Linked DNA regions of Homo sapiens: regions 1 and 3 are each linked to region 2. The links come from fine-mapping of genetic effects on gene expression. A gene starts in region 2. Each other region holds a variant in brackets. All regions are shown on one strand. Distances are between the middles of the regions. Region 1 overlaps WWC3 (WWC family member 3). Region 2 holds the start of WWC3 (WWC family member 3). Region 3 overlaps WWC3 (WWC family member 3).

Evidence for each region. PIP is the estimated chance that this variant, and not a neighbour inherited with it, causes the effect. A credible set is the group of variants that fine-mapping cannot tell apart.
Region 1: its variant is the best candidate, but not a certain one, in a credible set for the expression of WWC3 in whole blood (TOPMed, PIP 0.71).
Region 3: its variant is the best candidate, but not a certain one, in a credible set for the expression of WWC3 in whole blood (TOPMed, PIP 0.69).

The regions. Positions count from the first base shown.
Region 1 is chrX:10,080,240-10,091,415 of GRCh38, forward strand. WWC3 (WWC family member 3) reads left to right here. Exons shown (of 24, transcript NM_015691.5): 7 at 10,532-10,661. Among named protein-coding and RNA genes, the nearest start is that of WWC3, 71 kb to the left of the region's middle. RefSeq lists an enhancer at 2,647-3,147. The variant G/A (reference allele first, on the strand shown) is at 5,088.
Region 2 is chrX:10,009,692-10,020,867 of GRCh38, forward strand. It overlaps WWC3 (WWC family member 3), which reads left to right and starts at 5,563. Exons shown (of 24, transcript NM_015691.5): 1 at 5,563-5,982; 2 at 5,985-6,167. The coding sequence starts at 5,888. RefSeq lists enhancers at 3,678-4,561, 4,562-5,445 and silencers at 5,266-5,435, 5,476-5,535.
Region 3 is chrX:10,101,148-10,110,708 of GRCh38, forward strand. WWC3 (WWC family member 3) reads left to right here. Exons shown (of 24, transcript NM_015691.5): 10 at 8,631-8,873. Among named protein-coding and RNA genes, the nearest start is that of CLCN4, 51 kb to the right of the region's middle. RefSeq lists enhancers at 8,272-8,989, 8,990-9,561. The variant A/G (reference allele first, on the strand shown) is at 5,831.

The DNA of each region.
Region 1 (11,176 bases), 71 kb after region 2:
AATTGTCTTGTCTTGGCCAGGCCTGGTGGCTCACGCCTGTAATCCCAACACTTTGGGAGGCCAAGGCGGGCAGATCACCTGAGGTCAGGAGTTCAAGACCAGCCTGGCCAACATGGTGAAACCCCATCTCTACTAAAAAGACAAACATTAGCCAGGCGTGGTGGTGCATGCCTGTAATCCCAGCTACTCGGGAGGCTGAGGCACAAGAATCGCTTGGCGGGCACCTGTCATCCCAGCTATTCGGGAGGCTGAGGCAGGGAGAATCGCTTGAACCTGGGAGGCCGAAGTTGCAGTGAGCCGAGATTGCGCCATTGCACTCCAGCTTGGGCGACAGAGCGAGACTGTCTCTCAAAAACAAACAAACAAACAAAAACACAAAGAATGTTGTCTTTACTCTTTACCCGCTAGATGCCAGTAGCACCTTCCACCTGTATTGTGACAACCAATAATGTTTCTAGACATTGCCAAGTGTCCCCTAAAGTACACATTTGCTCCCAGTGGAGAACCACCGTGCTGGTGGCTACTGTATTGAACACCATAGGTGACAGATTTCCATCATCACGGAAAGCTCCTTTGGACATTCCAGTCTGTAGGTCTTCCTCCTGTTCTCATTTTTACAATAAGAACGTTATCCCTACTAAGAGATTGGGGATGAATTGTTTACAATTAGTGAGCTGTATCGAGTCTGCAGGTTTCATGAACTAAAGGTGGTGTTTGAGAAATGGTGCTGGTGTGGGTCTGAAGGTTTGCTGAGCCGTTCTCTCCATTCACTGGCTTTCCTTGCTGAACTTGCGCATGTGCCGCACGCCTTCTGCACCTACTTTTCTCATCTGCAAATGGTGATTGTTTTAGGCAGCTCGGGCTGCTATGACAAATACCATAGACTGGGTGACTTGAATAGCAGATATTTGTTTCTCACAGTTCTGGAGGCTGGAGGTCCAATATTTGGTTCCTGGTGAGGGCCCGATTCCTGATATGCAGATGACCATCTTGTCGCAGTTTCCTCTCATGGCTAAGAGAGCAAAAACTCTGTTCTCTCTTCCTTTTCCTAATCCCATCATGGGGTCCCACCCTGTGACCTCATCTAACCCTAATCACCTCCCAAAGGCCCCACCTTCAAATGCCATCACATTAGAGGGTAAGGCTGCAACATAAGAATTTGGAGGACACACAAACACACAGTCCATAACAGCAATCACTGTGCTCAGTTATACTGAGGACAGCACCAGCACCTGGTACATGCCCAGCCCGAAACAATTAGTCCAACTCTGTGTGGTTACTGTTACTGACGCAGGTGGGCACCATGTTGCCGTCTTTCATCCTGCATGCAGATGCATGAGGTGACACACGTGACTGCAGCACTGCTCTTTATGGGGAGGTAATAAAGGAATGTGAGGTACAGATGTAATTATCTACCATTACCCAGCTATGTGTTTGTGTGCATTTTGGATCTACAGTCAGAGCTTCCTTTTATTAACCCTAGTTAGTATTAGCACAGCTTCTTCTTTAGCTTTTTTTTTTTTTTTTTTTAAGACAGAGTCTTGCTCTCGTCGCCCAGGCTGGAGTGCAGTGGTGTGATCTTGGCTCACTGCAACCTCCCCCTCCCAGGTTCAAGTGATTCTCGTGCCTCAGTCTCCCCAGTAACTGGGATTACAGGTGCCCGCCACCACGCCTGGCTAATTTTTGTATTTTAGTAGAGATGGGGTTTTGCCACATTTGCCAGGCTGGTTTCCAACTCCTGACCTCAGGCGATCTGCCCGCCTCGGCCTCCCAGAGTGCTGGGATTACAGGCATGAGCCACCGTTCCCGGCCTCTTCTTTAGTTTTGTCTTAAGCAAATCAAGCTTCTTTTCCAACTAACCGGCTGCTGGTTTTGTCATTCATGCGGTGCATAGGCCAGAGTGCTTTCCAAATGCACCGACGTGTGTTTTGTCCTTTTAGCCCCCCACTCCAGCCAGCCTCCAGATACTCCAACACCTCCTCAGATGCGACTGTGTGTGCTGTGGCAGTGTCATCCTGTGTCACTTTGGCTAAGGTGGTGGATAAAGAATAAGCAGAAACAAATCATTTGATTTGTGACAGGTCACCAAAAGTTATTAGGACTACCTAGTTGGATTTGAGGTGAATTTTCTACCTTCATTAGGCCACACTGTAGCTGTCTCTCATTGTGATACAGTGTCTCTGGACAATATGTAGTTGTTTGTTTTTTTTTGGTTTTTTTTTGAGATGGGGAGTCTTTGTCACCCAGGCTGGAGTGCAGTGGTGCAATCTTGGCTCGCTGTAACCTCCATTTCCTGGGTTCAAGCAGTTCTCCTGTCTTAGCCTCCCAAGTAGCTGGGATTACAGGCACACGCCACCATGCCCAGCTAATTTTTATATTTTTAGTAGAGACCGGGTTTCACCATGTTGGTCAGGCTGGTCTCGAACTCCTGACCTCAGGTGATCCGCCTGCCTCAGCCTCCCAAAGTGCTGGGATTACAGGCATGAGCCACCACGCCCGGCCCAGTAGGTGGTTTTAATGTTAGTCATTGTGTGTGCCGGAGGTTGCAGTTAATGTCATTCTCATTTGCAGCTCTGAGGAAGGTGACTGGGGTTCAGGAAGAGTCTGAGTTTGCTCAGGATCCCTGAGCATCAGCAGGGAGCCACGTCTGGCACTTCCCTCATGGCCATGGTTTCTGTAGTGGGTTGCTGGGCTCAGCGCCCGTTGCTTTGCCTTGGCTCCATCGTTCTGGTGAACTCCATTTCCTTATTTGAAGACAAAGGCCATATAGCAGTGTCAGCTGTAGATGGACTGATTTAGAAACTGAAACGTACTGCTGACTGAGAAAACCCCCTTCTCCTTAGCATGGCTAGGATGTGAATTCATCTTTTGTAGTTGCAGTGGTTTCAAGAATAGGAAAAGGCAGCCTCTGTTTCCCTAGGGGCATTAGACAGAGAAGCAGGAGCCAGAATAACGAGAATTTTAACTTAACACCTGCGGCCAAAACGGAGCGCAAGTTGTGCTCCTGGAAGAGAGGCGGGCCAGTGCTGTTTGGATTGTCTTTCTGCTTTCATTATCAAGATCCCACGCTTGGGAACAGCAATTGTAAACTTGCCACTTGCCAAGGGGAGGCTCCTCCTGTCTGCCTGAGCTCATGAGAATACCCGCCCTCCCCCTGGAGGCCAAGGAGTGGCCTGGGGAAGGCTCTGGACCTGGCCTTGGTCCTGAGGGGCCCACCCCACCTCATGCCTGACCAGGGGCAAGTTAGCTTTCAGGAGGGAGCTGCCCAGAGCTGTTGTTTAATGGGCACGTTGCCTTGGCTCTGTCTGACGCTGCGTTGTTACTGTGCATGTTTACTTTATTCTGGGACAGACACAGCCTCACAGGAAGAAGAGAAAACCCAGGCACCCGTGCCACTCTTAAAATATTTTTGTAAGTGGAAGATAATCTGGTAGCCTTTCTCTGAGTTCCACAGCTTATGAGATGAAAACAGCCTCATTATTTTTCTGGTATTGAACATTGGGTGTTTAGGTTTGGATTGAATCATGCAAATGTATATTTTTTTAATTGAGAAATTTTAGAAGGCCTTTTCAAGCATTGAAAATGTGATTACCCCATCTCTACTGGGAAATCCTGACTATACGTACAGATAGCAGGTGAGCTGTTATACCTAAACATGAAGCATCTCTGATTTTATCACCAACATTGCTTAAGGCAGTGGCCTGAGATTTTCCTCCAGAAAATTTCCTGCTGTTCTTGCTTCCCAGAATATCCAGTGTATTCTTTTCCAGAGCACCTCACTAGGAGTTTGGCTGCTTATAACATTTTAAGCTTGCCTTGTTTATCTTGGTGAATTTCCTGGCTAGCAAGGAAATTCATCATTACACTTGGGTCCAAGTAAGGAAAAAAGAACCTTTTGTATTTTACTTTAAATCTATATATGTTGTTGATTGTTGTAGAGAGGAATTGGCCACAGATATGTTCGCTGGGTTAATGATAGAATATGTACACAGATGTGTGTTTTATGTGTATCTATGTGAAGTGTACACATGTAAGCTTTTAATGATGGAAAATATCAAACACAAAAGCAGAGAGAATAGTATACTGAAACCTTCCTGTACCCCTCACCCCATTTAACCTGCACAATTGCCAATCTTGTTTCGGTGGTGACCCCACCCCATCTGCTAAGCTCTCACGGCCTTATTGAAGCAAATGCCAGAATCCCATTTAATCCATAAATATGTCTCCTAAAGTTATGGACTCCTTTTGAAAATAACTCTAATCCCTGTACCCCATTTACTAGGCATCTTGTGTCCAGTGAGCTCTTGCATTTCTTCAGGTGTTTGGGTCCAGTTTGGGCCACAGAGTGCCTTTGGTTGATGTGTCTCTTACGTCTTTTCTTTTCTACTCTCCCTCCTTTTTTTCCCCTGACAGCTTATTTGTTGGAGAAAGTAATTTGGTTGTCCTATAGAATTTCCCTAATGTTGGGTTTTGCTGCTGAAATTCACATGATGTCATTGAACGTGTTCCTCTGTCTCTTGTTATTTATGCAAATGGGCGTAATAGTTTGAGAGGCTTGATCTGATTCAAGTTGGATTTCTTTTCTTTTTTTAGTAAGAATGTTTTTAGGTGGTGGTGTTACTTCCATCAGGAGGCACCACTCTGTGCTTGTTTCTTTTTGCGGTGTGAAGATGATCAGTAGGTTCTGGCCTTGTTAGCCCAATGCTTTGATTTATATTAATAACATTTCTTGTCAGCTTTTTACCTAAGTTATGGATGTGTATCTTCCAGGATAAGTTCCTGAAAGCGGGCTTGGTAGGTTAAAGGGTGAATGTATTTGTTGTATTATAGGTTGTATTTCTTATCTGAAATGCTTAGGACCAGAAGTGTTTTGAATTTCAGTTTTTTTTTTTTTTTTTTTTTTTTTTTTTTTTTTTTTGGTTTGGAATATTTGCATTATACTTACTGGTTCAATATCCCTCATCCAAAAATCTGAAACCTGAAATGCTTCACTGGTCATTTTCTTTGGGTGTCATGTCAATGCTTAAAAAGTTTCAGATTTTGAAGCACTTTGGATTTCAGATTTTCAGATTAGGGATACTCAGCTT[G/A]TATTAGATATGGCCAAATTCCTTTGCTGAGGGGTTGCACCATTTTGCCTTCCTACCACTAACATATGAGTGTTCTCGTTTCCTGTGACTTTGCCAACAGGATGTGTTGATAAGCATTTGCATTTTTGCCAGTCTCATAGGTGAGAGATAGTATCTCAGTGTAGTTTCAATTTGCATTTTTCTTGAGGCCTTTTATAAAAGTCTTCAGAAAATAGGAGCACCATTTACAATGACTAATTAAAGTTTAGAGAAAAATTGAGCTTTTCCAGTGAAAGGTCCCCTGGACTCTGTTGCCCTAAAGTTTCTGAAACGTTTTGGAAAAATTACCTTACTGTAACTTACTACTAGTGTCCAGAGGCAAAGGGAAGACTCAGGACCAGGACACGTGCAATGTTTCCCAACTGGGTGATGTGCGTGAACGGACCAAGTGCACCAACAGATGTGGGCAAATTCCCCTCTCCAGCTCCTGCCTGGAGCTCTAGAATGTACCTTGTGTTAGATTTTTTTTTTTTTTTTTTTTTTTTGAGATGGAGTCTCACTCTGTGGCCCAGGCTGGAGTGCAGTGGCACGATCTTGGCTCACTGCAACCTCTGCCTCCCGGGTTCAAGCGATTCTCATGCCTCAGCCTCCTGAGTAGCTAGGACTACAGGTGCACACCACCATGCCCAGCTAATTTTTATATTTTTTTAGTAGAGACGGGGTTTCACCATGTTGCCCAGGCTGGTCTCGAACTTCTGGACTCAAGCCATCTGCCCGTCTCGGCCTCCCACAGTGCTGAGATTACAGGCGTGAGCCACTGCACCCGGCCCCTTATGTTAGATTCTGAGTGGTCCTGCAGCTGGGAAGCTCATTTAACATTGCCCTTCCCTGAGTTTCCTGCTCGTGTTATTAGAGCCTTTTCCTGCCATGATACCTATAATGTCCCTGAGCACTGGCTTGATGGCAGAAGATGCTTTTGGGTAACACTGCCTGGCCACCTTGTCCATGGTGTGCTGTTTCTACACCCGGCCTCTGATCCTTCTCACAGCTTCCACCACCACGGCTCTGGGCCAAGCACTAATGTGAGTCTCCATCCTCACACAGTAGCCATGGGGTTCTTCCACAGCTAGTGCTCTCCTTGTGGTCCTTCTGTGGCTCTCTCTCACCTACAACACAAGCCAGACTCTACATAGGCTGGCCCCCGGCCCTGCCTCATTTACCTCTAGTTTCACCTTTGAAAGGGATGTCCTGCCTTTACCGTGGGTACTTGGAGCTCCCTCTGCTTGGAATGCTCTTTCCCCCAGATTCTCACATGCCTGCTCCCCCACTTCCGTGGGCCTTTGCTTAGTGACATCTCGAGAGATCCTGGCTTAACCATCCATCTAAAAATGTACTCTGTCACACTCTATCCCCAAACTGCTTCATTTTTTTTTGAAAACATTTGTGACTGCCTGACCTAAGGATGTACTTTTCATTGTCTGTCTCCTTGGCTCGAATCGTGCTGCACGAAGACAAGGACTTGGCTTTGTTCGCCGCTTCATCCTGAGGACCCAGCCAGTTCTCAGCACAGGGTGGGGCTTGGGAGTGAATGCAGATTGCCCGGGTGCTGGGGGGAGTGGCTGAGGTTGCTGTTCCTGCCCGCTAGTAGCCATCACAGGGTCCACTTCTTTCTCGGACACTGGGACACTCTGAGTGAGGGCAGATGTTTCCTTGGCCAAAACTTTTGTCCCTGGGCTGGAGGAACTCAGGGAGGCCTCTAGACATTGTCCAGTCACCTTCTTGCCAACTGTCCTCTAGCACAGCATTCTCTTCTGCATTTTGTGTGATATTGTTTTGGCCTGGGTTTTAAGAAGTCCTATTATCACTGCTATTCAAATCACAGAAAGGGATGCTCACCAGATGTTCCACTAACTAGTTTCCATGAGGTACATTCTTAGCCACTAGGTGAGCCTCTGCTTCAAGACTTTTGATTTCTTGATTAACTTCCCAAATGGGGTGAAACCCATTTGTCTCCTTAAATATGAGCCACTACATCCTTCTAAGCATGCAATACCAGAATGAAGCATTACTGCATATTAGAATTAGCATTTTCTGTCTGAAGGGATTTAGTAGTTTCAAGAAAGAGTGGGATTGTTCAGTAGAACAGGCTTAAAGTAACAATCTCCCATTAGCGTAGCACCTAAGGAACAGCCCACGCGAAAACCTCGGCAATGCTCAGATAACAACAGCGAAACGTACAGAAATGGGCTGGAAACAAAAAGAGGATTGTTCCTGGTTGTGGGACAGGTCTGGTGTTCCACACAGGTCTTGCTGTTGATAGAAAGCCGCCGGAAGCTTTCTGAGGTTCACCCAAGGCCGTCTGCCAGAGCTGCTGATAGAAAATGTAGAAGTTGTAACAAACCTTTCCATTCTTCTGGGTTGTAATCTGTGGTATTAACACAGAATATCTTTAGAGGGCTGGCAGCTCTTTCCTTCAAGATGTGGGGTTAAGAAGTTATGTGGTTTTACTCTTATTTTTCCTAGTGCAGTTCTCTTGACATCTTAAATTGAACAACCAATATGGAAATTTTAGGGTGGCAGGAGGTAGAGGTTGACAATAAACATCTCTAAAATGCCTTTTCCATTGTACTAGGTTCCTCATCTGAAGCTGTATCTTCTTCTTTTCTCTCCAGCCCATTTCTTTCAAAAGCACACCATAAAGAGCACCAGTTTACTTTGGGATGACATTTGACTGGTTATATGGGTGGCCTTCAGGTTTGACACAATGGGCATTTAGAGGCCTTGACTTTGAATATATTGCGAACCTGGTGATGGAGCAGACAAGTCCTGGTGTGGGGGGCCTTGGCTGTGAACTTCACTTTGCCTGTTACTGGCTGTGTGACCCTCAGCAAATCACTTAACGTCCCTGAAGCTGAATGCAAAATGTAGAGGGTGCAAAAGTAAAGACTGTGAGTCTGTGCACTGAATTTTGATTTCATACTGCATAATAACTCATGTCCTTGTTTAGTCTCCTTGAGCAGTTACCTTTTCTATCATTTTATTTGTGATGTATGGTAAAGGCACTGTCTTGCACTCTTAATTAAAATTAAGACCAGAATAAGGCAGTTCTTTGGCAGTCACAGATCTTATGATTTTTTAAACGAACTGGAATACATCAATATTTTTAAAAAATACCAAATCATTGAGCACATCATCTACATTGGACCAAAGTTTTTTAGGGAAGTTTTAGAGAGAGAGAGTGTGCTCTCAAATAAATGAATTTTACAGAAGTAAAAGAAGACATTTACTGTCCTTTGAAGTTTTTGTTGGATGAAAATGGATCACAATTGAAAAAATGGAGGTGTTGTGAAGCTATGACAGCTAAGAAAGTATAAGGTAGCCCTTCCATGAATATCCCAGTGAGTTACGAGCAGTGAGTGAGAAGGCCAGCCATTTTGATGGAAGTGGGGCTGGTTTTGAGGGACAAACAAAAGAGTTTTGAAAATGTACAATGGGTTTATATGCCTACTGTCACCATTCTTGCTATTGGCTCCCACGTTTTAGTAGCCACCAACTGGCCTGCTGGTACTGTGCTGGGAACTTTTTCTATTTTATTGCCAAATCTCCCGAGGACCCTCAGGTGATGTAGACTGTTAAAGTTTACCACCTTGATCATTTGGATGAACTGTTTTGTGAAAGAAGGGATTTAATGAGAGCAGAATAAAAAGAAAAAATATGCCCACAGCTCAAACTTTAGTTCATGCTCACTTATTTTAACTTTTGGCATGGAATACTCTATAGTTAAAGATACGTGTACCTTTTAATAAAGATGTATAAATAAAGACTTCTGCTTTGTAGGAACAGACAAGGCAATGTGTATTTGAGAAACCTACAAGTCTGTAACAGCCATTATGGAAGTGCCTGCAGGGTCAGGACACGTTGGCATTTAGGAGTGTCATTATTCACCATGCACGGTGTGCCTCTATCTGCTCTCCTCGGGGCAGAACTCAGGACTAGTGTTTATAAATATTTTATTTGTAGCTGATGGCAATCACAGCAATGCTGCCGAGCCCCAGAGCCCTATTCAAAGGGAGTCAATGGCTTCCTGCTTGTGTTGTTTGCCCTCTTCCTAGGCCATGGATGCTGATAGCTCAGGTTGACTCTGGTGCCGAGTTTTGCTTGAGTTGTGACATATTTGGCAAGGAATTTGTTAATGATAATAAAACACCAGAGTTGGCAAGTTATTTACTTTTTCTCCCATGAGTAAGGAGATTCTGTGTTATCCTGATAATAACAGTCACCGCAAACACCATATGCCAGGCCTCCTGCCAAGCAAGCTCTTACCTTGCATTTTCTCATTAAATCTCATGCCCATCCCATGGGAGAAATATTTTTAGTGTCCCCATTTGAGACAGGAAGAAGCAGGTGGAAAGAGGGGAAGTGACTCACCCAGGTCCCACAGCCAGTGAGTGGCAGAGCTGGGTGCCACTCGCACCCACCAGCATGCCAGAGGTTCCTGTGAGCGGTAAGCAAGGGAGTTGGGGCTGGCAGTTAATGATCCAGGTTTTCAGGATAACATGGAGGGAAATGTTAGAACCAGAACCTGTGAACTGGGAGACTCGGAACCTGAAAGAAGCCAGTTGCTTTCCAGAGAAGGAATTCATTCCACTCTGGACCAAAATTTCTCAAGTTCCTTAGCCTTAGGGCTTCCCATGCTGGAGCCTCAGGTGTAGGGGATGTGACAAAGGACATGCTCCAGAGGCCACCTCCCTTTGAAGGCAGAACCAAGTCTTGTTTTGTTCTGTGCTCTGCGTCCAGCCCCAGACCCAGGCCTGGTGTGTACAGGAGCTGGCTGGGAGGATGGAAGCTTGGAGGAAAGGTGGGAGGAAGGGGAGGAAGGAGGGAGGGAGGGACATTGCCATTTTCCCTGGATGAGTGTTTGGATTGAAGGAAAGAATTGAGGACTTGGTAGGAGAAAGAGTGAGTAATAAATTAGAACCAGAATGAAATCAGAGTTATAGGAGACAGAAAAGGTTTCCAGCTTTTGTACAAAGCACCATTATCGAAAGCTCACTACTTCTTGCTGTGTCCCATATATTCTCCCTGTACACAGATCTCATTCATATGTTTATTTAACAAAGATTTTGACCACTAACCTGGAGATAAACAAAACATGTCCTCTTTTCAGAGAGAGGAATTTACAGTCTCGGGAAATTACTCAAGCAAGCAATCTTGTTGCGCAATCATTAGCGGAGGACGTGGGCATCCTGTCTCGGACGTCTTCACCTGCCCAGGGTGCTCCTGAGCAAAGGGTGTTGTATCGACCAGAAGGAGGGACGCTTCCGTGGGGTCTTTCTTTTTCTTAGCCAAAACATTACTTTAACTGTTTCCACCTCTCTATGAAGCTTTTGGGTTTTCGTAGTTGTATGTTTAATGGAATGCTAGGATCTCATGTGAAATGACATTGATTTTTCTGTTTTAACTAGGATTGATCGGAAGATGTCAAGTACTCACACCAGCTACAAACTGGATGAGGCGCAGGCTATCATGAGTGAGCTCCGGACCATCAAGAAGGCCATTTGCACAGGCGAGAAGGAGAGGCGGGACCTGATGCATGTAAGCTGCCTGCCTGCTCATGTGTTTTATTTTAAGATGTTTTTAATATACTTATGTATTACATGTTATATAGTTATTGTATATATAACATATATGTGTATATAATACACACACACACACACATGCATACATACATACGCACCCCCCACTGTATTTAAGTACGTATATAGTCATCCCTCTGTATCCTTGGGGGATTGGTTCCAAGACACACCCCCATCCCTCAGGATACCAAAATCATTGGATGGTCAAGTCCCTTATATAAAATGGTGTAGTATTTGCATATAACCTGCACAGTCCTCCTGTATACTTTTCTTTTTTTTTTTGGAGACAGGATCTCTGTCACCTAGGCTTGAGTACAATAGCACAAAAATGGCTCACTGTAGCCTTGACCTCCCAGGCTCAAGCCATCCTCTCACCTCAGCTTCTAGAGTAGCTGGGACCACAGGTGCGCACCATCATGCCTGGCTAATTTTTATATTTTTAGTAGAGACAGGGTCTCACCGTGTTGGCCATGC
Region 2 (11,176 bases):
CTCCAGGCATTGCCAAATGTCCCCTGGGGGACACCATCACCCGCCCCCCCAGTTGAGTCACTGATTATATAACAATCATCTTGGTTACCTGTGTCCAGAAATGGTTCCATTCATGTTACAAGAGAGGCTAATTTTAATGCTAGTGTCACCAAATGAAAAACAAAGATTGCTCATTTCTGAGTGAGATAAATTTTCCTTCTTGTCTCTGCAAGCCTGAGACTTCTGAGCTGCTCTGCCTGGCTCATAAAGCAGAGGTCTGTAGTTTTAAGGATCTGTTTTTCCAAATACACAGGGGACCAGAGCTCTAATCCTAAATAAGAGAGAAGCCAGCCAGGAGGAAGTATCTTGTAGTGTGCTGGCTCACGGCTGCTGCCTCTTCCTAAAATTATGGTGTGCTTAGAATACATTTTGAATTGGCCCCTTCACATTTTGTGGAACAGAACCCATGGGAAGGGGAGGAAAATAAGTAAAAGTGTAAGGCTGGAAGAGGAGACCTGGAGACGAAGGAAGTGAGTGGCTCTGAGTTTTCTAAGTTTGGGAGAGAAATTGGTCTACATTTTTAAAAAATCTGAATTTTAATCACCCAGGCACAAATGCAACGTGCTTAAAGCATGACAGCCATTCACTGATTCCAAGGATGATGTTGTTTTGTGATGCGCATCCAGACACGGGAATTAAGCGCTAAAATGAACCAAACGCAGACTGGCAGGTTTATCCACACAGTGGACGCTTTGGGAATACCCTGCCTGTCTTTGGAGTGGAAGATTAGGACATGAGAAAAACCTGAATTTTCAAAATGGACGCATCTACACAAATCAAGGAAGTCCCAGTTGAGAAAAGTGCCCCCCGTCCACACACGAAATCTAAACAGTGACTTTTTTTAATACAAGTCAAATAAGTGTCTAAAGTTTACGTCTTTACATAAAGCCATGAAATAAAACACCAAGAAATAACCTCACCCTGTCCCCATTCCAACTCCTGAGCCTGGGGAGGGTCCCCTTAGGGATCTTTGCAATTTACCCTTCCTTTGATGCCCCTAAACCAGCAAGACAGGAATGAACAAGAACAACATCTAATCTCCTCCAGTGCTTGTGGATTTGCATTATTTAAATATATGAGAAACACCCATAATTGAGTAATTATTCTAGCATTTAAAGAATGCCAAACAATGAACCATTTCTTCTTCAGACCTAATCCGGCCCATTTCCGTTTTCCTCTTAGCACAATGTGTAGAATTACCCAATGTGTCGCTTCCTAGAACACTTGATTGTTTATACAAGGTAGGCAAGACTTCTCTGGCGGTGTTTATTTTTCTCATTTTACACTTGATGATTGTAGCCTTTACAGATTTTCCTTTTCTAGACGCTTATCAAGTACTGAATGTGTATGGATCCAATTTTGCACTTTCCTTTTTACAAATAAAGCTTATCCTTTAGGCGAGGGCTGGGGAGAGAAGGCAGAATCTGATAGTAAAAATCTTCAGACTCTGTCCTTGTTGGAGTTACTCCTTAACCATCATTTTAAGGAAAGTATTCTGCAAGTTAGAGATCAGTGCATTGTAACAGCTTCAGAAAGGGGATTTCCCAGAGGGTCTGGGAGGAGAACAAAAGCATTTGCATCTCCTTTCCCCAGAGACTAAGTGGATTTTTCCTGAGCTGCTTTTCCATGTGAAGTCTTGGTGGGAGGATGGAGCACTACACAATGTTCGTGCTTTTGCTGTTGGCCCGGCTGTGGTTTTAATGCGGAGGAAATAAAGAATGTAGAATTGTGCATTCAGTTAGGACTCAAGACTCCTTCGCCCTGCAGTGTTTTGTGTGTGTGTGTGGTTTTTAGTCCGATGTGGAAAGCCCCACTTGACTGTAAGAAAGACAGGCCTTATTCTAACAATTCACACACACACACACGCACACACACGCACACACACACACACAAAGAGAGAGAGAGACAGAGAGAGAGAGAGAGAGAGAGAGAGATCGATCCCAATTTATGGCAAAGCTGGGAAGTCAAGAGTCCCTTCACACCCCTACCAATTTCTCTTCCTTTCCATCTCCATTCACAAGTCTTTAGGGACCATCAGCAAACGCCTGGGGCTAACATTGCACACAAGTGGAAAAGGACTAATGGTGTAATAAAGAGGTCTTGGTCACCCCAAGCGCTGGCCTCTTCCTCTCTGGTTCAGCTCCTTTTAGGAAGACAAATGCAATAGCCCCACTTCTGTTCTCTCAGGCAGAGAGTGTCCAGAGGCAGTGGCTGGGCATGTGGATGAAGTTTTCTCAGTGAGGGTCTCCAATCTCTCTTCTCTGGCATGCTGTGTCACACTTCTTTTGCCTCTATTAATGTGCAAATGAAAGTAGGAATGCCTCTAGATGTTTTGGTGATTAAATGAGCTCGTATTTGCTAAGTGCTTAGATGACAGTAAGTGTGCAGGAGCCTATCTTAGGTCAGGCTCTTTAGAAAGGGTGCCTGAGACGGGGGTTCTCGAGTGAGCGGCTGATTGGAGGCATGCTTACACGAGTAAGGGAGGCGGGACCGGGCAGGGGAGGAGCTGGCAAAGCTATGATTTCCAGAGAAGTACAGCCTCAGCCTGATCCCATGGGGGATCCCATGGGGAGCTCTGGGGTGTCAAGGGCATTCGAGTTTGTGTCACCAAGGCAAGGAAACTGGACGGTCAGCTCCTGGGGCTGGGTGTAATCTCTCAGACATCTGTGTTAATGAAGGGTCATCTTCACAATACTCCAAAAGAAGGGAGCCCGCCCCAGCATCTGCTATACAAGTAAACAATTTCATGACAGCAGCTCCATGTGCCAAGGGGCAAGAGCTCAGAACTTGGGAATCTGAACATCTGAGCCTCAGTTTCCTCATCTGAGGCACCTTCCCTTTGGTCTCACAAAGCCTCCCACGAGTCCCCAAATTGAGGTTGGCACCCTGGCTTCATTTGTTGACAAGTGACAATTGTATTACAAGGGCCTATTTCTATGTTTAGTCCCCAAGGGAGTGCAAGCTGAAGCACAGACTATCCTCTTCCCTGCAGCATGCCTACACGCAGCACAGTGTCTGCGCGTGGGAGGTCCACTATTTGCTGCCCGCCTGAACGGGTAGAAATCTTTCACCTTCAGTGAAGACTCCTCGGCGCTGGCCTCTTTGAGCTCCTAATTGGATGCAGTTTCCCCCACTCCTTGCTCTACCTGATGCTTTTTTCATCTTGCCTTTCCTTCTGAGTCCTTTGATGTGTGGTGTATGTGTTCTCCTCTTTCCACTCTCTCTCTGCAGAAGTCGGTTTCACTCCAATACGCCCCAGCCCCATTCAAAGTACTTTCGAGTGATAGATTTGTGTCCAGATTTGTGAGATTCTAAAAGGACCAGGTGACAGGGAGGGTGGAAATGCAGCTTCAGAACGGCCATGTTGGGTGGTAAGGTAAGAAGGCAGTGGCAGCCCCACTGGCGATAAATCATGCCAATCGGAAGGGAAGATGTCAGAGCAGGGACACTCAGCACTTGGGGCATTCCCTGGCACATGCGACATCACAAAATATGTGCTTTTTTGACCCTCCCACTCTTTCCCTTGGACATGTAATAATCACACATGTTTAAAAGGACTCATGCGGTGGAATTTCTCACATAGAACATTCAGGTAGGGGTAGATAGATACTTGGGGAGCAAGAAAGTTTCTGTGTTGTAGTAGGAGGAGGGAGAGGAAAGACCTTCCTTGGATAGTTTTTTGGACGTCGCTATACCTTCACAACTTCACATTCTTCTTCTTCTTCTTCTTCTTTTTTTTTTTTTTTTTTTTTTTTTGAGACAGGGTCTCTGTTCCATCGCCCAGCCTGGAGTGCAATCGTGCAAACACGGCTCACTGCAGCCTCGACCTCCCTGGCTCAAGTGATCCTCCCACCTCAGCCTCCCAAAGTGTTGGGATTAAAGGTGTGAGCCACCGAGCCCGGCCCCACATTCTTCTAATTTTTTTTTTGTTGTTGTTGAGATGGAGTCTCACTCTGTCGTCCAGGCTGGAGTGCAGTGGCGCGATCTCAGCTCACTGCAACCTCCCAGGTTCAAGCAGTTCTCCTGCCTCAGCCTCCCGAGTAGCTGGGATTACAGGCGTGCGCCACCATGCCCGGCTAATTTTTGTATTTTTAGTAGAGACGGGGATTTCACCATGCTGGCCAGGCTCGTCTCGAACTCCTGACCTCGTGATCCGCCCGCCTGGGCCTCCCAAAGTGCTAGGATTACAAGCGTGAGCCACCGCGCCCGGCCCATTCTTCTTTTTTAAAACAACCTTTCCCCTCATAAAAGTAATATTACCATTTTACAAAAAATTGGAAGGCAAATCATTTTTAAAAATCCCGCCAAAGGAATGCAAACTCTTGTGAGCATTTCAGGACATTTTCCTCCAGTCTCTTCCCCTGTGTATCTGGATTTCAATCAGGCTCTACCAGATATTTTTGTATCACTGTAACTGTTTAAAAATCTCCCTGATACTGTCCTGCATTTCCTGGCATAACGTGTTGCGGCTGTGGGTCTGGGGCACGAAGTAGGTGGGAGATTTAGAGCAAGACACAGCCCCAACTCTGGAGCTTCAGCTTCCCCAGCTGGGAGCCAGTGAAACAGAAGTTCCCGTCTAGGCTGAAAGTTTTAGGAGTTGACCCGGCTTCCTCCCCAGCAATGGTCTACTTGGGTCTCCGCTCAAACGATCAGACCCCACAAACCGGATGAAGCGCTCAGGGAAGGTCAAGGAACTCCCGCCTAGTGTGGGCCCCCAGGTTAGCCCTTCTAGGGCTGTCCTGGCGGGGACGCAAAGTGGCCACCTGCCCAGCTGCCCGCTTCCAGAGGCGTCCTCCCTGCGCCGCCCGAGAGGACCGGCCGCGGGCTCCCCCAGCTCCTCAGCTCCCTCGGCCCCGCCTTCAGGGGCTTTTCCCACCTTCGCGGGACCAGACGGGTTGTGTGGGAGACCGAGGGCGCAGCCTCCCGCCAAGTGCGCAGAGGGTCTCCAGACAGCCAGAGCCCGGGAGCGGGTGAAGGGAGGGCACTGCCCGCTCTCTCGGGAATTGTTTGCGCCCGAGGAGTCACCCCAGGCAGGCCGCGCCCGCAGTCCGGGTAGGGCGTCGTCCTCCCCGCCCGCCTTCCTCTACGCGGGGGCCCGGGGGCGGACTGACGCGGCGGCGCCCATCCTGGCCTCCATGCGGTTTCCCGAGGCCGGAGGAAGGTGGCGGAGCGGGAGGGAGAGAGCGAGGAGCGCGCGGAGAGGGAGGACGGCGGAGGGGGAGGAGCAAGCGGAGGGGTGGGGGTGGGGTCGAGGAGCCGAGCGCCGAGGAGGACCCCGAGGGAGACTGGGGGCGGAGCAGCCGGCGACGGAGAGGCGCGGAGGACGCGGGGCCGGGGGAGGCGGAGCAGCGGGAGTGGGTGGAAAAGCAGAGGCGGCGGGAGGAGCGGGAGCCTCCGTGGGAGATTCGGGAGGAGCAGCCGGCGTGGGTGGAGCCGCCGGCGTGGGAGGAGCCGCGGGGCCTGGGTGAGAACGGGGCGGGACGGCCGGAGGCGGGGCCTGCGAACGCCCTGCCCCTGCTCGCCCGGGCCGCGCCGAGGAACGAAGATGGCCGGGCGCGCCGCGGGAACGGAGGGGCGGCCGGCAGCGGCGGCGGCGGCGGCGGCGGCTCCCGGGCTGTGACTTCGCGCGCGGCGGCCACCCGGGCTACCTGAACGGAGTGGGCGGCGCGGGCAGCGGCTTGCTAGGGCGGGCGGGCGGACGCCGGTGCACGGGCGCCGGGCGGAGGATGCGCCAGGAGCGGCGGGCGGCTCCCCGCGGCCGCCCCCGCGCCCCGGGCGCCGGGCCTTAGTGCTGGCGGAGGAGGCGGCGCGCGCGGGGCGGCCGGGCGGCGGCGGGGCCCGCGCCGTCATGCCTTGGCTGAGCGGCGGCCGGCGGCGACGGCGGGGACAGCCGCGCGAGGCCCCGCGGGAGCCGCCGCCTTCTGCGCAGCCCCAGCGGGAACCGCGCCGCCGGCGCCCCCCGCCGCGGTCCCCACGCCCCCAGCTCCTTCCGCGCCGCCGCCGCGGGCCCGGGAGAGCGCCGAGCTGCCGCTGCCCGCCGGCTGGGAGGAGGCGCGAGACTACGACGGTCGCGTCTTTTACATTGACCACAACACGCGCCAGACGTCGTGGATCGACCCCCGCGACCGGTAAGCGGGCCGGCTGGGGGCGCCAGACCCGGCGCGGGCGCTACGACCCGGGCCGCCGGCCGGCGCCACCGCGGATGCGCTGGGGACACGCCCCGCCCAGCGCGGGGCCGCCGCCGAGAGCCCCCGGGCCCGGGCAGAGCTCGGAGCGCCTCCATCCCCGGAACCAGGGGACTCCCTGGAGTGCTCCGGTCCAGGCTACGATCGAGGCGCCCCCATCCCTTGGGCCCAGGGAGAGGATCGGAGACACCAGGAGGCCCTCGGGGCTGGGTGAAGATCTTTGGTTCCGGGGGTCCGGGAGAGGATCCACCCTCCCAATACCCCGACTCCCAGGGCTCTGACCAAGAATGGAGGTGCCCCTTCTCCAGGCCTCGAGCCCTCTGAGCGCCGAGGCCGGCCGCCTACAGGTCCCCCGCCGCTGGGCGGACCCTCTCATTCGGTTCCCTCACGTCACCCGCTGTCCGGCGCCTGGGAACTGGGCTCCTGGAATTTCCTCTCCTGGGGCTGACAGATGGCCCTCTTTTCCTTTCTCTGCGGCAGCCTCGCCCATCCCGGTCCCGGGCGTCTGCGGCCCACTGCCCCGGCCCTGGTTCTGCAGGTGTCCCCAGCCCCGCGGTGGCGAGATGAGCTGTCACCTTGGATCACAAACGTGCGCCCCAGCTTTGGGGTGCGGGTTCCCTGTCTGGCGGGTTCAGGCTGGTTTCCATCCAAAACCTGATGTCAGACGGGCCCTTGAGGGATTCCCAACCCTTTTGGAGTTGGAGAAGTCTGTTCCCAAACTCTAGTTGCTCTTTAGCGCCTTAAAACTCGTGAGTTAAAACTGTTTGAAATAGCCTTCTGTACTGCAGCCAGAATGCAATATGATTAGTCCCATATGCTTTTGGAATAAACGAAAAACAAGAATTGTATTTTAAGTTTCCTTTTTGTGAAAGATATGCATGGGGTACAAAGCTGTCTTATTCACGTATAAAAACCCAATCAAGTAAAAACTGATTCTTGTAAAAGCACTATCAGATTTCATTTAATTAATTCCATGTAACGAAGCTCTTCCTTAACTTTTTGCTCGATTGTCTACGGGTTTCGATTGTTCAACTGCTTTTACAGAGATGTATTTTGTGTGGAATTGGGATTTCTGTGGACATCAAGTGTTTCCACAGGTTATCTGATGTCTTGTCCTCTCTAGAGCAACTCTCCTTCCAGGGCCTGAGTGCCAAAAAGGAAACACCACAGGCTTCCCAGTGATTTGAAGACTTGCAAAGGCCCAGTGTGGTGACATTGTGCCTGCTTCCTCCTACCTGCACAGGGAAGGCGGCCTGCATGGCACTGGCGTCTGAAAATAAACTTTTGAGGAGAGAAGCTGCTGAATTGTTTGAAGATTTCTCTGAGTTCAAGCAGGGGAAAACAAAAGAAAGCAAAACAAAAAGATCGTGATTCCCTAACATTCTCGCTGAACATTGCAAACCTCTGGGCTCAGAAACCTATATCAATCCTAGTACAATTTTATGGGTTAAAAAGATGCCTAGTTATTTTGAAAATCAGGTGAGATCATGTTATAATTTTAACCAAAGGCTAGAGCCCCAGCTGTTTGATCAACCCTTGGATGGTTCTGGAATTGGTAGAACTGCTTGGAATGCAGTGCCCTTTTATACCATATGTATGTTAAAAACCCAAACAACTGGAAAATGAACCAATTAAAATAGTGTTTTGCTTAGAAAAGGCTAAGGCTCACTTTCCAAGGGTAATATAAAACAGTTGTGGTTATATTGGAGTGGAGATTCATGCTGAAAGATATCAATGTGAGGATTTTCTTTTTAATGGTGTAACCTGTGACAAACGTGAATGGACCATACAGAAATCAGCTTGGAGAATCTTGTTTTCCATGTATTTCAGACACATTTCCTATATTCCTTTTTTCCAGAAATCGATTTGTTACTTTTCAGACAATCACTTAAAGGTTTTTAAAAAGTCTCCGTTCTGATGCTAAAATTGTCAATTGAGTCAACAAAAGTGGATATTTTACCTTTTTTTTGTAAAGTAAAAACGTGTGTACTTTTATGAGACGTTGTTTTTATAGTGAGTGAAAATTCAGCAGGGGACAGCTTGAACTTCAGCTCCCATAATACCTTGCCCGAAATATGTATGGAATGTTCAGCAAGCCACAAACATTTAAGTGGAGTCGGCTGAAGGCTGTAATAGTCATTCTTCTTCCTCTTTCAAAACAGAACCTGGCCGAGTTTTATAGGTGGCGGGTTACCCTTTAAAGTTGTAATTAACTTTTATTATATGGGAAGAACTGCATGTCAGAGGGCAGTGTTTTCTCCATGCGCATCTGACAGTTAAAACCCTTTTTGAGTTGCTTTTGAGTCACACAGGAAAATGGTATTCAAGAAATACGAGGACTTTCACCAAACAGCTTCCACATAGAGACCTGACAGGAGAAAGGCAAATACATAATAGCTTTTTTTTTCTCTTTAAGAAAATGAAATTGTGGTGGAATAAATGAATGTAGTAGGTTAAGTGAAAATTGTTGTTGACTTTAAACATAATTTCATATAAACTTTAGTAAAAACTGTATAGCATAAAATATGGTCCAAGGATTGTAAACAAAATCTCTTCTTGAGTTTTATAGTAATTCCATTCAGTGTTGTGTTTAACATTTGATAGTGCCGGCTCAGAGCCTGTTGGTGAAATTATTGTAACTGCTTTTTAAAGTTACAACAAAGAAGATACAAGGAGACGTCTTTACGGATGTGGCTACAGATGTATACACAATCTCAATATTTTAAAAACAATTTTTTAGTTTGATTATAAGCCTACCTTTGGTTGGCTGGGCGTGGTTGCTCATGCCTGTAATCCCAGCACTTTGGGAGGCTGAGGTGGGTGGATCACTTGAGGTCAGTTCAAGACCAGCCTGGCCAACGTGGTGAAACCCTGTCTCTACTAAAAACACAAAAATTAGCCGGACGTAGTGGTGTGCGCCTGTAGTCTTAGCTACTTGGGAGGCTGAGGCAGCAGAATCACTTGAACCCTGGAGGTGGAGGTTGCAGTGAGCCGAGATCGCGCCACTGCACTTCAGCCTGGGTGACAGAGAGAGACTCTGTCTCAAAAAACAAACGAAAAAACCTACCTTCACTTTAAATTCACTATTTCTATAGATTGATACTGTACATATAATTTTCATAGTTAGTTTACTGGGAATCATACCCAAGAACTTGGTTAAAAACTACAAAGTTAGGCCAGGCGTGGTGGTTCATGCCTGTAATCCCAGCACTTTGGGAGGCCCAGGGGGCAAGATTGCTTGAGTCCAGGAGTTCGAGACGAACCTGGGCAACATAGGGAGACTCTGTCTCTACAAACAAATAAAATAATTACGTGGGCGGGGTAGCGTGCGCCTATAGTCCCAGCTACTCAGGAGGCTGAAATGGGAGGATTGCTTGAGCTGGGGAGATCCAGGCTGCAGTGAGCCGTGGTCATGCCACTGCACTCCAGCCTGGGTGACAGAGTGAGACCTTGTCTCAAAAAACGAAACAAAACCCCACACCAAAAAAAAAAAGAAACGAAAAAACAAACTACAAAGTTAACTTATTTCTATGGCTGGTAGTTTCCTTACATGAGTCTTGTGTGGTTTACATTAGTGGCACACTAATATCTTAACTGAATATATTAACTCAGAATAACTTGACCACCTTATGAAAAGGTATTTACCATTGGGCAGAAAATATGGGAAGAACATTTTTGCCCCCTTTGTAAAGATTCACTGTCTTTGACAGTTGTGTTTACGTGTGTGTCTTGCAGGGTTATTTGGGTATTATCCTATAGATGGACTGAGTGTTTGAAACCTCATGTTCCATTTCCTGTAGCTCAGGTGGAGTTGTACGGTACTGGAAATGCCAGCTCTGGGCAGCTTAAGTATGGTGGACGATACCATATTTGAGATCAAAGTATAAATAATCATGCGGATGGCGGAAGAGCAAGATCATGTCATGGCATAAGCTTTTGGGGACCCATTTGTTCACCAGATGGGATTTGACCTGTGCTTCATGGAGGAATTCTGTGGTATCTTAAAAGTCTTCTGAAGATGCTTTTGCTTTAAGAGGAAAACAATCCATAGCTCTGGAATTTGCTAGGTTGGATCCCCATTTAACAGCCAAATAACATCATTGCTACCTTCTTGGAACCTTTATTTAGTTATTCAGTATTAACTAATAGGAGGTTTACTATATTCATCCCACAGAGTCTATTTTTGGACTATATAAACTGTCCTGGTTGAGCTTTCTGATAAACAGGTAATGATTTCTCCCTTTTTCTTTTTTTAAGGTTATAGATAGTGTTTGTATGAACATGGGGGAGCATCTTGTTTTTAAGGCTGTAAGGGGTCAGTCCCTGGAAGAAGCGGCTCTTGCTTCCATTTAGATCATCAATCCTCATTTTTTGGTCTAACATTTTTTGGTCTTTTCCTTTCCTTCCATTTATTTGTTTATTTATTTATTCATTTATTTATTTTTTAAAGAAAAGTGAAAGGAAAAGTAATTCATTTCCAAAAATAGCTCCTGGATGTTTGGAAATCTCCAAGTTTCCTTCTCCTTCCTTTCACTCTGATTTGGGAAGTGGAAATAACACGTATCACCATCTCTAGTTAGGTTCTACTTCAGGAGCCCATGGGTCAGGAACATGTTCATGGTCATCTGGTGAGCCTACGGTAGGCTTCTTGACTTCCATTCCAGATCCTTTTGCTAATGGTGTCTATCTTTCCCATAAATTCAATAAAACAAATCTGATGGAATAAAAGCAAAGTTAAATTCTACTGAGTTCAGTTATCCCTGTTTAATAAAGTGAAGAAATATTTGTGGAGAGTCTTGGCCTTCTGTGTGCAGGGACAGTATGTGGAAACCAAGCTGGTCTGGGAGGTGGCACACAGACACATAAAATGAAGATAACAATAGTTGCAAGGCATCCCAGGATTGATTCAGTTTCTCGGATAATGATCACTTCAGAGAAAAGGTGGGCTCACT
Region 3 (9,561 bases), 91 kb after region 2:
AAGCCATTAAGCTTGTGGTAATTTGGGGCAGAAAAGAGCAAACTCATACAGTGCCCTTGGCCTGTTCTGTCTTCTCTGTCTGGAATGGGGTGGCTTTTCTCCAAATTGTCACATGACCTCTCCTTTTGATCACCTTGTTAAGAGAGGTTTCCTTGACCATCCTGAATAAAACCTCACCACCCTGTCCTCACCCCGGTCCCCCTGATTGGCTGAGCAAATGTTATTACCTAACCAGTGTTTACTTTTCTTACTGCCTGTCTCTCCCTGTGAAAATGTAAATAACCCTCATGAGTGCAGGGATTGTAGGTCATTGCTGTAAGCCCAGCAGCTACATACTTGGTGAATATTTATTGAATGAGTAAATGAGGGTCCCGTGTGGTTGCATTTGCTATTTGGCCTTTGCCCCTGGGACGGGGCAAGCCAGGGCAGTCCCGGGGCCAGGTCAGCTCCAGGCCAACTGCTCTGCTCCTGGGTCCCTTCCTCAAACCTCCATCCAGGTGTGAGCCTTGGGGTCTCTCGCCTTGACTTGAGAAGGGAAAGGGCTTCAAGACATGGGTGCCTTTAGGGATCTGAGGTAGGCAAGGAACTGTCTCTCCCTTTCAAGGACTATGTTCAAGGTGTGATACGTCAACACACCGAGCTAGACTAACAGTTCTGGGCCTTCATGGACATTCAAAAGGGCTACTAGCCTTTGAACTCCATAATTAATCCTCTCCTTGGGGGTTGGAGAAAATGGCATTGGAGTTGGGTCCTGAAGGAGTGCTGGGATTCCAGTCGCCGTCCATTGGGGATGGGCTTTCTCAGGTAAGAGTGGGGGTCAGGAGTGGGGGTAAGGTGTCACTCTGCAGCAGCTGGACTGGCCTGGAATTGCAGAGCAAAGGCCAGCCAGGCTGGAATGGAGGATGCATGAGCAGGGAGGCAGGCCACGGCATGGGGGCCACGATGCCCCGAAGAGGGGTCAGAATTGCTGGGCATGCTGGGACGTTTGAGTTGGAAAGATTAAGTGTGAGCCATTCAGATGGTGGTATGTGGAGGAGGGCCATTTGAGGAACCCAGATGGCATAGAGATGAAGTCACCGAGCAGCTGGGCTCACCTTGGGAGATGGAACACAGGGAGAAAAGAGGAGATGCCAGGACTGAGCCTGAGGAAGTCCAATCAAAGGCCTGGCGAGGACGAGACTGGCCAGAGGGGTGTAGTAAAAGGTCCGAGAGGGGATGGCTGGGGCTGGAGGAAACAAGAAGAGGAAGTACACCTGAGAAGACACTTATGTCCACGGGCCCAGTGGCTGTGAAGGAACGAAAAGGGGGTGGTACCGTTGGCCGACAGGCAGGCCTCTGCTTCCCAAGCCCAGCCTGAGGTGTCCTTAGTCCACAGTGCATGGGAAAAAGGAGGGCCAGCGGCAGGTGTTCCTAAAGCCAACTCGCTGCTTTCCAGTCAAAGAAGCCTCTCATTCTCAGAGATACATACATATGTACATACATACATATAAATATATATAATTAATATATGTTTTATATATATTTAATACATATTTATTGTATATTTTTATATATTATATTTATAATACGTGTTTAATATACATTTTTTCATATATATTTTTTTCTGTTAAAACATCTTTCTCTTAATTAACTAATGATGATCATTGATGTGAATTGGTTTTTTCCAAAAGTCTTTACTTGGCAAAATAACAAGCTGGCAGTCCTAAATTGTTGCCATCAGCACATCCCCTTTCTTAAATTGGACTGGCCTGGGGGAAGTGTGACTGAGATGGTGCTCTCCCTGGAATTAAAGGAGAAGGATGACCCTAAACAGGGTTTCCAGAGGCTCACAGTAAAGTGGAGGGTCATTTGAAAGGCAGATCTTGGTTTTGACCATGAGTTTGGTGTTTTCAGTGGACTTGAAGCTGCTGAGAAACATCCATGAAGTGTTCTTGTCGGTGGAGTCCGCAGTGGAGATTGCAGTTCGCTGAGTCATTGATTGCAGCTCCCTCCGGGCTCTGGTTCCCAGATGCGGCGGTGCACGTCTCCAGTCCCCTTGGTGTGATTGTTTCTGCCTCCAGTCATTCCACATTGGTTACTGTAGCTAAGGCTTGACCAGTAAGTGCATGCCTGCCATGTGAACTACTCAGCTGTAGGTCACATAACCCTTAGCAGCCTGGGCAAGGCCCTAGACTTTACATACCTTGTAGCGTTGTCAGGATAGTCTTGGCTCCCCTCTGCCCCATCCCTGTAGACAGATGGAAGGCTAGGAAGGGTTGATGTTATCAGGTCTCCCCAGCACCAGATGAGCGATTTCATTACAATGGTGTTTTCCGAGTGTTCTGATGGACTGCCTCTAAGTGAGGCACGAGAGTAGAACGATACAGACTTGGGGAGAGAGCAGTGGCAAGTGGTTCTCTGGCAAGAACTCAACATTAACATTCCAGGAGCCAGGTGCTGAGTACCACAGGCAAAGCATGGTGGCTTTGAGGTCCCGTCCATGGTCTCTTCCTCGGCCCCCTTGATCAGGCTGGGAGATAATGTCTCTGATATCCCTGTGAGCGTCCCTGGAGAAGTGGTGTGCCATGAGCAGGAAGGCATCATGTACCCCCATCAACCCACCAAAGCATGAAAAAGAACACGTTGCTCTTAGTGGCAGTGTTAGCAAAGAATAATGCGTTCTTCCCTGCTCCCTCATTCCAAGCCTAAGGGACATCATGTGCCCTTTCCTCTTGCCCAGGTGAACTTCTATTAGATTAGTGCCACAATTCAGTGTCGTCTTTTCGTTCTGCTACTTCGCCGTTGGACATTAATCTCCCAGCTCTCATTCCTGAAATCATTTCACCCTGCAAGCTTACCTTCCCTACTGTATTAGGTTCTGCAGAGAAACAGAACCAACAAGAGTAGGGGTAGGGAAGAGAAGGGAGAGAGATTATTTTATTATAGGAATTGGCTCACGCAATTATGGAGGCCAGGAAGTCCCACCATCTGCAAGCCGGAGACCCAGGAAAGCCAGTGGTCTCATTCAGTCCAAGTCTGAAGGCCTGAGAACTGGGGGTGGGGTGGGGTGTGGAGTGGGGTGGGTGGGTGGGTGGTCATAGTGTAAGTCCCAGAGTCTGAAGGCCTGAGAACCAGGAGCTTTGGTGTCTGAGGGCAGAAGGTGGATGTCCCAGCTCAAGAAGACAGACAGAATTCACCCTTCCTCCACCCTTTTGCTCTATTCAGTCCCTCAATGAATTGGATGGTGCCCACCCACATTGGTGAGGGTGGATCTTCTTTGCTCAGTCCACTGATTCAAATGCTTATCTCTTCCAGAAATTCCTTCCCAGACACACTCAGAGATAATGTTTGTACCAGCTATCTGGGCAAGCTTTAGCCCAGGCAAGTTGACACACAAAGTAAACCATCATGTATATCCTCTGCAGAACCTCCTGTGCTTTGCCACTTCTGAACAGTGGAGGATTTTATGCCTTAGGCATTTTGGACGTCTTTCCTTGCACATATATATTTGAGATTATTTTTAAGATGTGGGAAATTGTCAAAAATGCCGAATTCTGGACAATGAGGGATTTCATATATATATATACATTCAGATTTTTTTTCTTTCCTTTTTTTTTTTTTTTTTTTGAAGACAGGGTCTCGCTCTGTCACCCAGGCTGGAGTGCTGGAGTGCTGGAGTGCTGGAGTACAGTGGCGTGATCTTGACTCACTACAACCTCTGCCTCCTGGGTTTAAGCGATTCTTGTGTCTCAGCCTCCTGAGTAGCTGGGATTACAGGCACGTGCCACCATGCCTGGCTAATTTTTGTATTTTTAGTAGAGACGGGGTTTCACCATGTTGGCCAAGGCTGGTCTCGAACTCCTGACCTCAAGTGATCCACCCACCTCAGCCTTCCAAAGTACTGGGATTACAGGTGTGAGCCACCCCACTCAGCTGGATTTCATATATATTCAGATTTAAAGGAAGTTTGTGGAAGTGGAACTCATAATTCTGAGTGGTGATGTGATTTCTAGAGAATTCTCTGGCCAAACGACCACTATCATGATGACTAGTTTTGTGTTTTTAACTGTGGGTCCTGTGAAGCGTACCAAAAGGACTGCTTGCACCTTGCCTCAGGAGCGCCTCTTCGGATTCCCAAGGCAGACCTAATGATAGGAATATTCACACTATTGATTTTAAAATTTCAGAAATTTTAAAAGTGAAGTTGAAAGAGCAAGTCTTCTTGAAGCAATCCCGATGACGCAGATGGCTCCTTATTTTTAACTTAAGGGCGCTTGTTCCAGAACTGTGCACAAACTGTAGCTGTTACCATAGAAACACTCTCAGTCCAGATAGGAACAAAACATTCGGTCCATCCAGTTTCTCTGCCTCTTAGTTTTTGTTGCCAGGATCAGTCCTGCTGTTCATCAGTTGTCGAGGATCAGTGTAGTGTTATGATTCCAGTTGAATTTGATCAATCACTTGGATTTTTTCATTTCTCAAATGACTTCCTATCTGGGTTTTAGGGGTGGGGCACAGTTGTGAGAAATAAGGAAAAGCATCTTTGCCACTGTGGCTCTGTCTTCCCTATTCTGGTCAACACGGAGAAGCCTGTAGACTCACTGCTTTTTATTTGATGAAGTTGCTCTCTGAAGATCTGTCTGTTGCAAAGGGAGAAGATGTCAGGGCTGGGAAGCTGAGGACGGGGTGAGATATTGGTGTATTAGTAGACCTTTCTTATCCCACATATTCTAGATTCAGACTTCTCAAACTTCTGACATAAAGAGTTGAGTAGAATGGACGCTGGTTTAGTTCAATCAGCTGAAGTGATTTCATTGTCCATCTGACTTACATCTCAGCTGTTTTCTTTAACCTTTGCTTTTTATTTAAATGGGTATTTACAACAAGAAAACTAAGAGAAAATGTAAGGAGTATCGAACCTGTAGCCGTAATTGCAATCTGAAGGTATGAGGCTCTAAGCTGACCCCGCGTCCTGGAATGTGCCATTGGGATCCCTCACGACTCATCACCATGGGATAGGACCGTGGGCTGTCCAGAGTTCTGCTTGCTATTCCAGAAAGCAGCAGGATTTTAGGACCATGAGAAATGATATTGTAGACTGCAGATTTTTGGTATAAATTCAAATAATTAGGGATTATTCTTGATATGCCTCAGAACTTTTTATTATTGAAAGTGCATTGTTTTCCTATAAAAATGCAAATCGTATTTAAGATTTTCATGTGAATTGTGAGAGTCTAAATAGTTTCTGCGGCATAAATGCATGGTTTAATGGTGCCTGGGTTGTAACAGAAAAGTGTTTGAGCAAAAATCATAAGGGAAAAATGATTCATATTTTATGTCTGTCTACATTAGACCTGCTCAGGGAATAGAATTTGGGAAACACATAATAAATAAGAAACCTGCATGCTTGATTGAACATTTGCTTTCTTCACTATCAGGACACGGGGGCATATATTTTAAGGCTTTTAAAGGCATTTGGGAGAGATTTTATATAGGCCATAAAATGCATTACCCCTCAAAAATAAAAATCACTGAAGAATATAGTTGGCTCACAGAAAAAAAAAAAAATCCTCTCTAATTTTAAGCTGCTATTAGTTCTCTTTACAAAAAACTCGGGAAAGTTATTTTGTTTTGCAAACTTTAACCATGACCTTGCTTTACTTCCATGTATTTAATTTCACTGAAATGATATTTCAAAGAAAAGCCTTTCTGGAAATTGTTTTTCCTTTAATACCCAAAATTGGAACAACAGCACTCACAGGAGCGAGGCTCCAACCAGTGGATCAGCTGTTTGGCGTGGATGTAGAAGAAGGTGCATTGAAACTCAGTACATCTGTGTTTAGCCTTAGGC[A/G]GGAAGTCTGTTTCTTCAAGTAAACCTAACGTACTAAAGATACTCCCTGCAGATGGCTCGTTTCCGGCCCACGGCAAGGTAGACAAGTCATACGGTTTTAAAGGCAAAGCCGTCTTGTCTGTCTCATGGGGACATAAGAACAATCGATTGTTGAAGGAATCCTAGTGCTTTTGGCTTCCAGTACAGACAGACAGACAGATGTGCCTCTCTCGACCTTGCTGAAGCAGGCCCCAAATGTTCACACCTAGAACATGGGGACAAAGAAAGAAATTGAACTTTTCAATATGTTCCAGTTTCTTCTAGATTCATATATAGCTCTGAAATGAAGATGAGATTGTTTGCATTGTTGCATTGTTTTGAAATTTTATTATTAAACCCCACAATTGGAAGGCACAGAAATGTTTGCCTAGCATTCAGCACAGCCCAAACATTTCCAGATGGGTTGCAGATTTTGTTTCTGCTGGAGAGGTCGTCCCTTGCCGTTTGTCCTTGCATATTTTTCCTGCCAGCTGTGGGAAGTGACAGGACATGGTTTAATTTGGGCTGCTGTTCTGTTTCTTTATGCCTGCAGCAGACAGGTCTTTTGAAACTCACCCTTTGCCTCTCCTCCCTCCTATAATTCATTTTTTTCCTCATTCTTTTTTTCCTGACAGTGCATATTACTTGAGATTTTCCTGGAAAGGTTGTGATTATCTGGAATTGGATCTTCCGCCACCTTCAACAGCTTGAATCCTTGTAGGCTAGCAGCTAACCTAGAGCTGGCAGACTCAAATGGAATCTTGATCTCTTCATATTTAAGGCTCAGAAAACTCAAAAGGAGTGTTCTGTAAAATACTTCTGTTTATATTATATGTATGGTAATTAGTATGAGTATAAAATGGTCGGGCAAAATTTAGCTGGGCTCAGACTTTCCTGTGGATCAGATAAATGGAAATGAAAAAAAGTATGAGGACACAGATTTGCTGATTGTTCTTCATCTTTTATATTTATTTCTTAACTTGTCTTGGTCTACTGTAGAATGTTCCAGAAATGTCATTGGGTATAATGTCTGATTTAGCACTGACTTATTTGTGGGTTTGCTTGGAGTGTATTTTCCTTGGGCTTTGGATATATGACTGCCATAAATTTTAATTACACTAATTAGACGTAGGTGGATGCTTAAGCCCAGTTGGAGTCCTAGCCCTGTTCAGCTGCCTCTGTCATTAGTTTTTCTGGTGACATGGTTTGGCACCATCTTCCAACACGTTTTCCAGACATTAGTTTTAAGTTAGAAAATAACTTGTCTAATAAAGCTACTGACATTCAACTAGTGTCTTTACCTTGTTGAAGTGGACTTGAGTAAAATGCATACATTTAAACTGTAACTTGTGTACCCGTTTCTTTCCTTAACTGTGGGCTTTCAGATTCGTTTGGTGGCTAGAGAGGGAGTCATGCCCGATCCTCATGAGTCCATGTGCTCGTGTCTAGTTTAGGTGGAGCCTGACTTGGCACAAGGCTGGGTGGCAGGTTTTAACATGTGTGGCAATGCTAGTCAATTGGGGATATCCACATGGCTCATAGTGTAGAGAAGGCTTCTGAGGTCTAGACCCAGCAGGTGGGAAGCCAGCCTTGGTTAGTGCCGTGGACCGCGGGCACAGGAGGAGGCAGTCTCAGGAGCACCTCTGCCCTGCATCTCCCTCGGAGGATATAGGGCCACGTGTGCCTGCCACTTCCCTGTTCTCACAGCTCTTTGTGATCTCAGAGAAGCCTCTGGATTTTGTTTTTGGGCGAGTATGCCAACTATGTCCTCCACAGCATGGGGTTCAGGTTGAGTTTGCCATTCCTAGTTTCTCCCTAGAAACATATCCCTGATCTTTAACCCTACTTAAAGGGCTTAAAACATTCTACTCTTACTTTTAAAGGATGCTTTAAAAATACAGGCCACATCTGTTTCACTTAATCTGCATTCAACAGCACCTCATGACACAAAAAGTAATGCAGTCTGTTTGCCAAGCAAGCACTTGGAAATTTCGAGGCATGGAAACTGATAGGAGCCTCTGTTTTTCCACCTTGAGGATTGTTGCGCTTTGCATCCACCCAGATCATCTCTCACCAGCATCCATGCTCACAGGGCTGCCTCTCTTCCTCTCACATATTTGCAGGCGTGTTTGTTCACTGTTCAATGCACTCAGCTTTTGTCGAGTGCCCACTTGCTCTCCGCAAGGTGTTTTGAATTCATGTATGGCCAGGGGCTCTGGTGCAGGAAGGAGCACACAGAACCAGAAGACGCGGAGCATGGGGCTTCGAAGGTCTTTCCTTCAGGACGCCAGATGATGAGTGCATTTCTCCTTTGTTATTTTGCTAAAGCGGCTGACAGTGGTTAGACACAGCTGAGGAGGCGGGAGGCCGGCAGCACTTCTGGGGGTCCAGCATGCTGTTTAGCTACTGATGAGGGTGGGCAGAAGAAACAAGCAGACTCCCTCCTGCTCTGGGACAGTTTCATGTAGGAAACCAGGAGTCTGAGCCGCCGAGTATGGGCATGTTGAGGGCTGCTGGCCTTTTTGTCAGTTCTTCGGAACAGGCACGATGGGGTTATTTTCATCTCGAATCTCAGGCTAAGGGAGCTTCAGGAAAAGACTTCTGCACCATTTTTTAGGACATTGTTTCCATATCCTTTTAAGTGTAAGGGTCACTTGGTGTAATCATTTCACTACTTATTTGGCAAAAGGAGTTTATAGAATCAGTGTGAGACGTGGAGAAGGTGTGAAGACGGCGTTTTCAGTCCGCCGATGTCCTTTTTTCCTCCCCGTCTCTCTTGCAGAGTCGCCAACATCCAGCAGCAGCTGGCCCGGCTTGACAATGAGTCCTGGCCAAGCACGGCCGAGGCTGACAGGGACCGGCTGCAGCTCATCAAGGAGAAGGAGGCCCTGCTGCAGGAGCTTCAGCTCATCATTGCACAGCGCCGCTCTGCGGGAGATGTGGCCCGGCTGGAGGAGGAGCGGGAGCGCCTAGAGGAGGAGCTGCGGCGTGCACGGGCCACCTCCGCACAGGGCGCCACGGAGAGGTGGGTCAGCGGGGACACGACCTCCAGCGGAAAGCCTGCTGGAAAAACTCCACGGGGTGGCTTGTGTGTGGCTGGAGGGTGTTCCTGATGATCACTCAGAGCCTCTCCTGCCTGGATGTTCCCTGGCCTAGGAGGGGCATGCGGTGGGGGGCACTGCCTTCTGCTCCCTGGGTCTCTGGAGCCTCTGCTCCGAAGCAGGAGGTGATTGACAAGGGGGAAGGAGTGAGGGAAGATGGGTGACCTCCATCTCCGCCCACGCCCCACCCTTCCTGAAGTTGGTGCTTGGTGCTTCCACCTGCCTTTGTGGGACAGTGCCCTGAGCAGGCTGTGGTCCCGCTCCGGCCCGGGCAGCTCTGTTGCATGGGGGAAGAATTCCCTGTTCCTGACGTGGTGAGCATGGTGGGTATCCACCTACTGCTTTCCTCTCCAACTTTGATTTCTAGCCAGGAGAGCCTGCTCTTCTCTGGCATTGGGAAGCTGGCCACCTGTCGTGCGTCTGTCCTGAGGCTCCTTCACCACGCAGGACATGCAAAGCCAGCATAGTGGCTTTGGTATTCGGTGGCACTGAGTCGTTCAGCCTTTCCTCGTGTGCCGTGTGTCCTGGTTTCCATTTGCTGTGTGAGACTGCAGATTGTGTCAAAGGCTGGGCCTGCCTTCCACACTTAACAGCAGTTTCTCTGTGGCTATC